Regions from separate parts of the Homo sapiens genome. Here all the other regions are reported to be linked to region 1. Evidence: microRNA targets listed by miRTarBase, many of them from high-throughput screens and not tested one by one. Region 1 holds a microRNA gene; each other region holds the end of a gene's coding sequence. Distances are between the middles of the regions.
The links. The annotated mature microRNA hsa-miR-6512-5p reads UACCAUUAGAAGAGCUGGAAGA and lies in region 1 at 1,972-1,993, opposite strand. An mRNA with a match to its seed (bases 2 to 7 or 8) in the 3' UTR can be bound and repressed. Matches are read on the target gene's strand: a 7mer-m8 pairs with bases 2 to 8, a 7mer-A1 pairs with bases 2 to 7 and ends in A, and an 8mer does both.

Region 1 (3,261 bases):
TTATGAATGTCTTCTTCAAAATACACTATTAAAAGAGTGAATAAAATAAGCCACAGAGTGGGCTGGGCACAGTGGCTCACGCCTGTAATCCCAGCACTTTGGGAGGCCGAAGCAGGCAGATCACAAGGTCAGGAGATTGAGACCATCCTGGCTCACATGGTGAAACCCCGTCTCTACTAAAAATACAAAAAATTAGCTGGGCATGGTGGCGGGCACCTGTAGTCCCAGCTACTTGGGAGGCTGAGGCAGGAGAATGGCGTGAACCCGGGAGGAGGAGCTTGCAGTGAGCCGAGATCACGCCACTGCACTCCAGCCTGGGTGACAGAGCAAGACTCCATCTCAAAAAAAAAAAACAAAAAACAAAAAGCCACATAGTGGCAAAAGATATTATCAATACATATACCCGACAAAGGACTCATATCCAGAATAAAGGACTATAAAAACAAGAAAAGGCAGACAAGCCCATAGAAAATCACACAAAACACATGAATAGGCATTTCACAGAAGAGGGTACCCAAATGGCCAATAAACAATTAAAAAGGTGTTTATTTGATATCAGAAAAATGAAAACAACAATGAGATTCAATACACTGCATTAGTCTTTGAAGAGAATGGCTAAAATTTAAAAGATGGAAAAGATCAAGTTTTGATGAAGATGTGAAAAACTGTTGGGCAGTACTACTCAAGCTGAACCCCATGCATCAGAGAAATTACACTTTTATATATCCAACTGAAATATGTGTGTGTGTGTGTGTTCACCAATGTTCACAGTGGCACTAGTTGCAGTAATCTCAAATTGGAAACAACCCAAATGTCCATCTTTGGTAGAACGTATAAATTGTGTTATATTCATACAATGGAATACTACACAGCAATGAAAATGAAGATACTATTATTACTCTCAACATGAATGAATCTCACAAATAGTTGAGTAGGAAAAGCCAGTAATAAAATAATACACACTGTATCATTCCATTTTGTCTAATGTTTAAAAATAGGCCAAATTGGTCTAGGGTATTAGAAGCCAAGATTACAGTCAATTTGAGGGAGGATAATGCCTAGAAAAGATAATGAAGGGAGCTTCTGGTATGGTAGTAGTTTCTGCCTCCCAATCTGGGTGCTAGCAATATGTAGGTGTGTTTACTTTATGAAAATTCATCAAGCTCTCTGATTATAATTTGTGCATTTTTCTGTCTGTATGCTATACTTCAATAAAGATAGATTTATACTGAGTTAGGAACAAAGCTCAATAACTATAATTCTAGGCTGAGCTGCTAATAGGATTTGTTAAACAATTTAAACTGTGCCAGTCAGATATAATGATGCGAAATTAGAAAGGTAAAAGGAAGAGAGAGGCTATTTCCCCTGCCTATTAGTTTTCCTTCCTTCCTTCCTTCCTCCCTTTTCTTTCTCTTCTTTCTCCTTCCTTCTTTCTCTTTCTCCTTCCTTCCTTCCTTCCTTTTCTTTCTCTTCTCCTTCCTTCCTTCCTTCCTCTTCTTTCCCTTCCTTCCTTTCTCTCTCTCTCTTTTTACCTTCCTCCTTCCCTCCCTCCTTCTCTCTCTCTATTTATTTATTTTTTGAGAAAGATTCTTGTTCTGTCCAGGCTGGAGTACAGTGGCACAATCACAACTCACTGCAGCCTAGACCTCCTGGGCTCAAGGATCCTCCCACCTCAGTGTCCCAAATGTTTGGGACTTCAGGCATGCACCAACATGCCTGGCTGCCTATTAGTTTTCACTGGTAGTTGTTGATGTACGTGCAACATTAAATGTGGTTTTTAATGACCAGACTTTCTGTGCCTCTGCATTGCCACTAACTTCATCTGTGAGAAATGACTGTGATGCCAGCAGTGGACTTTATAGCTTCCTGACCTCTAGATTGTAGCTGTGTGGACTGAACTGCGAGCCCAACAGCATCCCTCTTAATGCTCCTACCATTAGAAGGGCTGGAAGAAGGCATCTCCCTCAGCCTTCTTCCAGCTCTTCTAATGGTAAGAGCATATAATTTTTAAGCATATAATTCTTAGCATTCAGTACCTAGAGAAGTGTCTGCACTGAACCCCAACTGATATATCAGTTAATAACACAACTGATAGGTTATCTAGTAGGTTTATGGTTGGTTGTAAGAATCTTTGGGAAAGAAAATTACCATTGGCAATCCTACCACCTAGGATCATCATTATCATGGGAAAGTTCTGCTTTAGAGGCAACCTAAATCTATTTTGAGGTCCTGAAAATGCATTTACTTCACAGGATATGCTGGTTTCTGCTGCCATTCAAAAATTATTCTTAAGGCATTCTTTGTTCTCTTTTCACTAGCTAAATAATGCCGTGCTTTTAACTTTTCTTTATGTGTTCAGCAGCTTTTCCCAGTTGTGGATATTTGAAAAAAGTATTCATATAAATACTGCCTGTTCTGGTAGGATTAGCTGTCCCTTTCTTTTGGTTATATTCCCAAGTTCATTCTTGCTTATCTAACCAAAGCCCTACATTGCTGACTCAAGTTTAGTTTATGGTCCAAGCCCAGTATCATGTTACTATTAGCCAAGATTTCCCATGGGTTGAGGCAGACTTGTAGAAGATTGAAAAATAAAACTTACTGGCCATAAGTAAGACTTTTTATCTGGCCTTCCAGTACAGAACATTCTCTAATATAGCAGCTTATAAACAATGAGAATCAGAAGCCTAAAAAAATTAGTTAATAGCCAAACAGTGACTGAATCATGGAATTGTACAGTTAGAATGGACCTTAGAAGCAGTCTATATAAGCCAGGTATAGTGGCTCATGCCTGTAATCTCAGCACTTTGGGAGGCCAAGGCAGGAGGATCTCTTGAGCCCTGGAGTTTGAGACCAGCCTGGCCAAAATGGTGAGACCCCATCTCTACTAATTTTTTTAAAAAGTCTATATACATACCAGAACACAGAGCTCAGATATGTATGCAGGATTCCAGTCCGTGCTGAATACTCTTCCAGTATGAGTACTCTTCCTACTCCTCAAGGTGTGTGGCCCTCAAAGCAGCAGCATCAGCACTTACCTGGGAGCTTGTTAGAAAGCCAGAATCTCAGGCTCCAACACCCACTGAAGCAGAATTTGCATGTAACACCCCCACCCCTTCTTGATTTGTATGCATGTTGAAATTTGTGGAGTTAGAGACAAAAGCACCACAGGTGCATGTCTTACTATTTAAAGTCTTGCCTAATTATATAACATAGAAACCTGATCCCTTCTGGACAAGGCCTGTATTATTACAGGTCCTGGTC
Region 2 (3,223 bases), 14 Mb from region 1:
CAATATTGGATTTTCCAAAGTTGTCTAAATAAGACTGGGTTTGTCAAAACTTGCCAGACGCTTTCAAGTGAACACAGCATGTTGGCGGAAATGAAATATAATGTCTAAAAGTCAGAAAATAGGTCAGCACTGTGCAAAAGTAAACTTGTCAGTGAGATCAATATGAACCTACAAGTTAATGTGGATATTAGAATTTCCTTACAAGGGATGCACAGGGTAGACCCAGAACACGATTGTAGCATTTATTCACTTGCGAAAAGCAGAGGGCGTATTTAAGTATTATTTTTTGTATCCTTAATGAAAGGCACTGCTTTTTAATATGGAATATTTATATTTAAGCACAGCTTTAATTGACAGAATGTCACAGTAAATTAAATTCTGGTTCAATTGCTCAGTTTTTAGCAACATAAAAAATAAAAAAAGGGGAGTAAAGATCAAGCATCATAAAATTTCAGAGATAAGAAATCCCTCATGAGCTTTCTCTATGTTAAGTGTTTCAGAGAATTGGATATTGTGGATAAGATCGGTAAAAATTTTTGTAAGAAAAAAAAAACAGAAAGGCCTTTCTTGGGGCTTCTCATTGCATTTATTTAAATTTTTTTAAAAATGTACATCACTTATTTATTGAATACATAAAATGCCAGTGCTTTGCAACAGTTTTGTTACTGCATCTCTAAACTAAAAAAAGAAAAGGGGAAAAAACCCAGGAAAATACATTCAAAAGGCCAGGCTGTTCTGCTTATGCATGGGCAGTGGCTGTGGAAAGCTACAGCCTGCTCTGTGACAGTTCAGAAGCATTGCCAAACATCAGCCCACTATCAATGAAAGGTTGCACATAAAGCATTAAAGGATACAAAGAACAACTTGACAGAGAGCAGGAGAAAAATAGGAAATTAAGAAAAATGCCACTTATGCCATGGGTAGGGGTGGGGCTGGTAGACTGAGGTGGAAGTAAGCACAAATGCTGATGTCTTTGGAAACTAGATTTACGGTGAAAGATGGAAGAAAACAAAGTAACATGTTTGGCAAGCTACATTGCAGTGTGTGTGTCCACTTCCAATTTTCTACTTTACTTTCCAAGAGAAATGTAACAAAACTGAGGTAGAAATAAAGCAGGAGCACTACAGCCCAGATTTCAAAATGAGAAGCAAAATTGCACTGACAAGAGTGGAGTCAAAAAGAAGGGGAGGAGATGGAGAGGTTCTTTGTGGATATATATATGTGTATGTAAGTTGGTTTGTTGGTTGGTTTTTGTTTTTATTTATTTGTGTATTTGTTTTGGTTGCTATCCTCTGCATTCTATCAAACAGCACGGCAAGTCTATAAGCTAGATTAGTGAATAGAATGACACCATTCCCAGCAGTTTTAAGAGATAACTTGCAAACTACCACCACCATCACCACCACTACCACCTATGCAATAAAAAGGCAGTCATAGTTTTTAGGTACTGTGACTTTCAGGGTCCTAAACAGGTCTTGTGGCTGACAGGTCTAGACACTAACACAAACTGAATAAGTAGCTTTCAATTAACCAGTGTACCTTTTAAGAACATTTTCACTTAATTATCAAGGAGCAATGTACTAAGAACTCTTGCAGTTATTGACATAAAGAATTATTCTGCTCTGGTTAATTCCCCATAATTAGTAAAAGAACTTAAAAAAATCCTTCCATTTCTACTTTAAACTGTAAATATTCAGTTGTATCACACTTCAGTATTTTTCTGGATACATTCAAAGTAATTTTCCTTGCTATTTTCCAATTGTTGAGGTAAACATACATTTTAATATAAAGTAACATTGAAGCCTATCCTATTACTCTCAGCAGTACATAGTGCTTTCAACACATTCCTTTGAGGTACTGTACAAATCACAATCACTTTCCTGAGTTTTTGCAGACAAGAACATTAAAAGAAATGAACTGCAGAAATTAAGGTCCAGATTACCGTTACCCTGTTTTACCTGTTCTTAGCTTAATACTGCAGAACAGACAGGATTGAGGAATACTGTTGCTCTTAAAATGGCAAAAATCTGGTTTTCTGTCATAACACAACTGTTCATCTCTTTAGTCCAATAATGTTTGAAGTTAAAGCTCTTTATATTAGCACATGCCACCAATGTAATTGTGAGGCAAACAAAAAATAAAGCACCACTCCAGGCACTTGACAGCAACTAAATCTCGAGAACAGCAGAATGGAATCAACACACGAGGTTCATGTCCTTCTGAAATCAACACACTTGCACCTTGCTCCTTGGTGAGTGTTGTCTAGCTTGAACAGAACTGAGCATCCACATATGCTTTCTGTCATCTGGGGCTTTCAAATCAGAAGCTCTCATTTGATGCACTTTTCCTCCAAATCTACCCTGACTCTAAAGATGCAACTTAATCGTCATCTTCCCCAGTACCCTTTGCAATTTAAACTCTACTGGAAAGGGGCTCTATTCCCTATGTAGCAGGTTTTATGTGTGTGTGCCAACATTCATTACATTTTTTTTTTCTAAAGAAGTTATCACTGACTGCAACCAAACATTTTGTTCCATTCAACATACATATCAAGCTCCTTTTGAGATATGCTAGGCTGAATCTTGCAGAAAGCATTTTCAAAGTCTTGATATGTAACGGGCCTCAACTGGCTGGGCATAATGGCTGAAAGGTCTGTGGCTGGCATGGCATGGAGGGGGCCCACCACTGCTTCCTGACACAAATGAGCCACATCTAGTCCAGAAAAGCCTTCTGTGCGCTGGACGAGCAGTGCAAACTCCTTGTCATTGAGACAGTAATTGTGCTGTGAGAGCAGTTGTACTATTATCTGGTGCCTCGCTGTGCTGTCAGGAAGTGGGATTAAAAGTCGTTTCATGAAGTACCTCCGAAGGGATTCATCTATTTCTTCTGGTTTACTGGTGGCACAAATTACTACGATTTGGTCCTCAGCCGAAGTTAGTACAGTGTCCAGTTGCATCAGAAATTCGGTTCTCATCCGACTGACTGGACTATGTTCCTCATTCACTTGAGAGGAGAGAAGCATGTCAATGTCACTAACAAAAATCACCGAGGGCTGGCGACACCTGGCCACAAGAAAAGAGGCATGGATAATTTTCTCTGCTTCTCCTAACCACTTGGCGACTAGTCCAGAACCGGCAATTTTGAAAAATGTGGCCCCCAGCTGACTAGCGATGCATCTGCCCAATAATGTTTTGCCTGTCCCCCGAGGTCCAAATAAAAGGAT
Region 3 (3,252 bases), not on the chromosome of region 1:
CAAAAAATACAAAAATTAGCCGAGTGTGCTGGTGCATGCCTGTGGTCCCAGCTACTCGTGAGGCTGAGGTTGGAGGATCACCTGCACCTCGGAGGTCAAGGCTGCAGTGAGCCATGATCACACCACTGCATTTCAGCCTGGGTGACAGAGTGAGCAGAGTGAGACCCTGTCTTGAAAAAGAAAAAAAAAAAAGAAAAAAGAAAAATAATAATACATATATAACCTGCAATAAAAAATGTAAGAAAAAACAAAAAGTAAAAGAAAGGGAGGGAAGGAGGAAGGAAAGGAATTTATCTTAAAATATTTAATTCAAATAAATTTTAAATTCCTGATCTCTAAAAGTTTACATTTCAAAAAAGGAAAAGAAGTTCTCTGAATGCTGACATTACAATAGGAATACATTCAGGTTTTAGATCTTAAAGTAAAAATTATATGGCTGTTGTCCACAAATCATGATTATAAAGCAAACACCTAAGACAACGAAATCAATTTTCTTATTTGCTACCTCATTCTATTAGAGCCAGCTGGAAAATATAAGAACCACAAGGCTTATAGACACAAGAAACAAGGTGATTTGCTTTTGCCTCCCCTCGACCTTTTCATTACCCACTTACAGACAGAAATTAAACTACTTGCTGGATTTTTCAAAACCAGAATATAAAAGCCCTCCTTTTTCCTTTGAACAAATTGATAAGCATAATAAAAATCACTTTCATTCTTTTTATGTTGTTTGGCCCAATAGCTTCAGGAGCTCTATGATGGTTTATTTAGGCCTCACTGAAGCAGAGGCAATACCCATACAATCTCCACAGCAACAAAAGAAATTGTCATTGAAGCACAAGGGATTTATCATTAGGACGTATGTACACGCCTATCATGTATGTATGTGATGTTTTTAAAACACTCTACAAATGTTTTTGAATTACAACATGTATGACATGTTCTAGCTTATTATCCTATATTTGGTATACCATTTGGAAGTCTTGAATTTGCACTTTGCCAAGAACTGTAGTTAAGAATAAAAGGCAGAGGAAACTGATTATTTCTTGCCTCCAAGTATCTTACTGCCTATGCTTAGTTTACAAGCTCAGATAAATGTTATTTTCAGGCAAGCTGTGAATTATATCAAATGATTTTGAAAGACATAAAGAAAAGCCATAGCTTGGATCGTTAGTAAATAAAGACCTCTTGAAATTCATGTTGACTTTCCACATAGAAAGTGGAAGGAAACTTTTCTGCAAAGCAACTCATCCACATAAAAAATAGTCAAAAAGGACTTCATTTAATTAGTGGTATGTAAAGACTCTTGCATAGAAAAAGGTTACAAAGTAATGCAAAAAAGACTAGGTACAGTAATTTCAAAACAAATATTTAAAAGTATAATTTTGCATAACGTTTAACATTCTCATAATGTTTATTGCTTTCTCCACACAGTAGAGAAATGAAGTGCATAATACATGCTGTGTCTCTTATCTTTTAAACAAAAACTCTCACGTGCTTGATTTCAGCATATTAAGAGATTATTTTGTCATTAAACGAAATCGAAAAAAACAAAACCACAACCCCATTACATAGCACTAGTTTAGGCATGGGCAAAAATAACTTATGTACATCCCATTGCATACATTCATCTTGTTTTGGGATCAAATGCAATCACTAACTTGACAAAGAGCTTTAAAAATTGTAGCTTTTCTCTTCCTAGTGCTCCCTCCTTGCTTCATCACCTCCAGAAATGTAACTTCTCCCAAAGGGTGACAAGAATAGATGTTGCATCATTAGGAGAAAATGAAGAGGATAAATATATAAAAATAGTCCTAATGAAACTGAATAAATTAAACCAAACTCCTACAAACTGGAGAGTTTTCAAGTTGGCATGAATTAAATAGCCTCTGGTGGACACATGGTAGGCAACTGCTCATAGGTGCACTATATAAATGTAAGGTTTATATAAAGCAGCACCATATTTTGAGCCATCCAAAAAAAAAAGTGCCTGGGGGCCTGCAGGCAGAGCAGAAATGCTTGTTAATCTGAGAACTGATGAAATAATTGCTTATACCAATGCACTGCTAAATGTCACCTCTTGGCATGTCTGTACAAAGAAGGCAAACTAAGATAAAACTAGATCTTTCAACTTGAAAATTATTTTCAGCAGTCATTTTGACCAGTAAAACCTGTTGGTTTCAGCAGAATACTCTTCTCTGGCATGGTATTAAAATGTCTGCAGCCTATTGCAAGACTTCTGTCCCTTTCCTTTCTTAACCTATCCTCCACACTCGTCTTCCCTTGTGCAATGTTATATATCCAGAAGAAAACTTCCTAAGCTCAGGCACTTACGAAACACGACTCTCTCACTCTCTCTCTATATATGTATGTCCCATCTAGTCTCAAGAGAATTCAGTCAGGGCATTTTACTTCCCCAATTCAGACATACTGATGCACTGCTGGATGGTACGGTCCATATATTTTCCAGGAAACTTCTAAATGGTAACAAGTGTGAAGTTTTCAAAAGTTGCTGATGTCAGTTACCGAGCTGCCTTGAACCAAACAAAAAAGGGAGAGAAAAAAAAGAGAATACCACATTTCCACTCGTGAGGTTTGTGTCTCAAATAGCTTTATTGTTCCTTTGTGGATCTGTCGGCATCTGTATGGCTACCTTCAGGGTGCAGAGGTTTTAAGCTGACTCTGAAATGGAGGACATTCAGTTACTATTGCAAGAAGTTCAAGAAAAATTTAAAAAGCTCCAACTTCTGTCCCCCAGGGTCGGTAAGGTTTATTGTTTGTTCCACTGCTGGTCTGCTGAGGACTGGACGTGGCTGATACTGACAAGGGCGGGCTGATGGCTGTGGCCGCGGCCACTGCTGCTGCTGCGTTTGGGGGAAGCATGGGGAATGCCCCCGCGAAGGACAGAGGGAAGCTGTGTGCAGCCGCGGTGGCTGCTGCGGCTGCGGCGTGGACGGTGGCAGAGAGGGACAAGAGAGAGGTGGAGAGAGGTGGCACGCAGGGGGCGACGCTGCCCGTGGATGGCATTCGGAGGGCTGAATCCGCATGGGCAAACGTGGCCGTGAGGAGAGCAGAGCCGTGGGCAGGAGGCACTTCTGAAGTTGTGGAGAGGCGACAAGGGGTTGACTCTGAGGCATGGAGGCCGTTGGGCTGGAGCAGGGCTGCGGGCAGGTGGTGGAAGGCGGCGGCCCAGTGATGCGGGTGGAGCGGATGATGGTGGTGGGCCATGGAGGATGTCATGGCCGCCGCCTC

Region 2: miRTarBase lists FIGN as a target of hsa-miR-6512-5p. The part of its 3' UTR that is shown has no 7-base or 8-base seed match.
Region 3: miRTarBase lists HEY2 as a target of hsa-miR-6512-5p. The part of its 3' UTR that is shown has no 7-base or 8-base seed match.

What each region holds. Positions count from the first base shown.
Region 1 is chr2:177,311,882-177,315,142 of GRCh38, forward strand. MIR6512 (microRNA 6512) reads right to left here and starts at 2,001; the gene lies at 1,925-2,001. The region is part of intron 6 of LOC100130691 (Putative uncharacterized protein FLJ44553); the gene reads right to left.
Region 2 is chr2:163,607,046-163,610,268 of GRCh38, forward strand. FIGN (fidgetin, microtubule severing factor) reads right to left here. Exons shown (of 3, transcript NM_018086.4): 3 at 1-3,223. The coding sequence ends at 2,507. Among named protein-coding and RNA genes, the nearest start is that of FIGN, 130 kb to the right of the region's middle.
Region 3 is chr6:125,759,281-125,762,532 of GRCh38, reverse strand. It overlaps HEY2 (hes related family bHLH transcription factor with YRPW motif 2), which reads right to left. Exons shown (of 5, transcript NM_012259.3): 5 at 1,264-3,252. The coding sequence ends at 2,731. Among named protein-coding and RNA genes, the nearest start is that of HEY2, 11 kb to the right of the region's middle.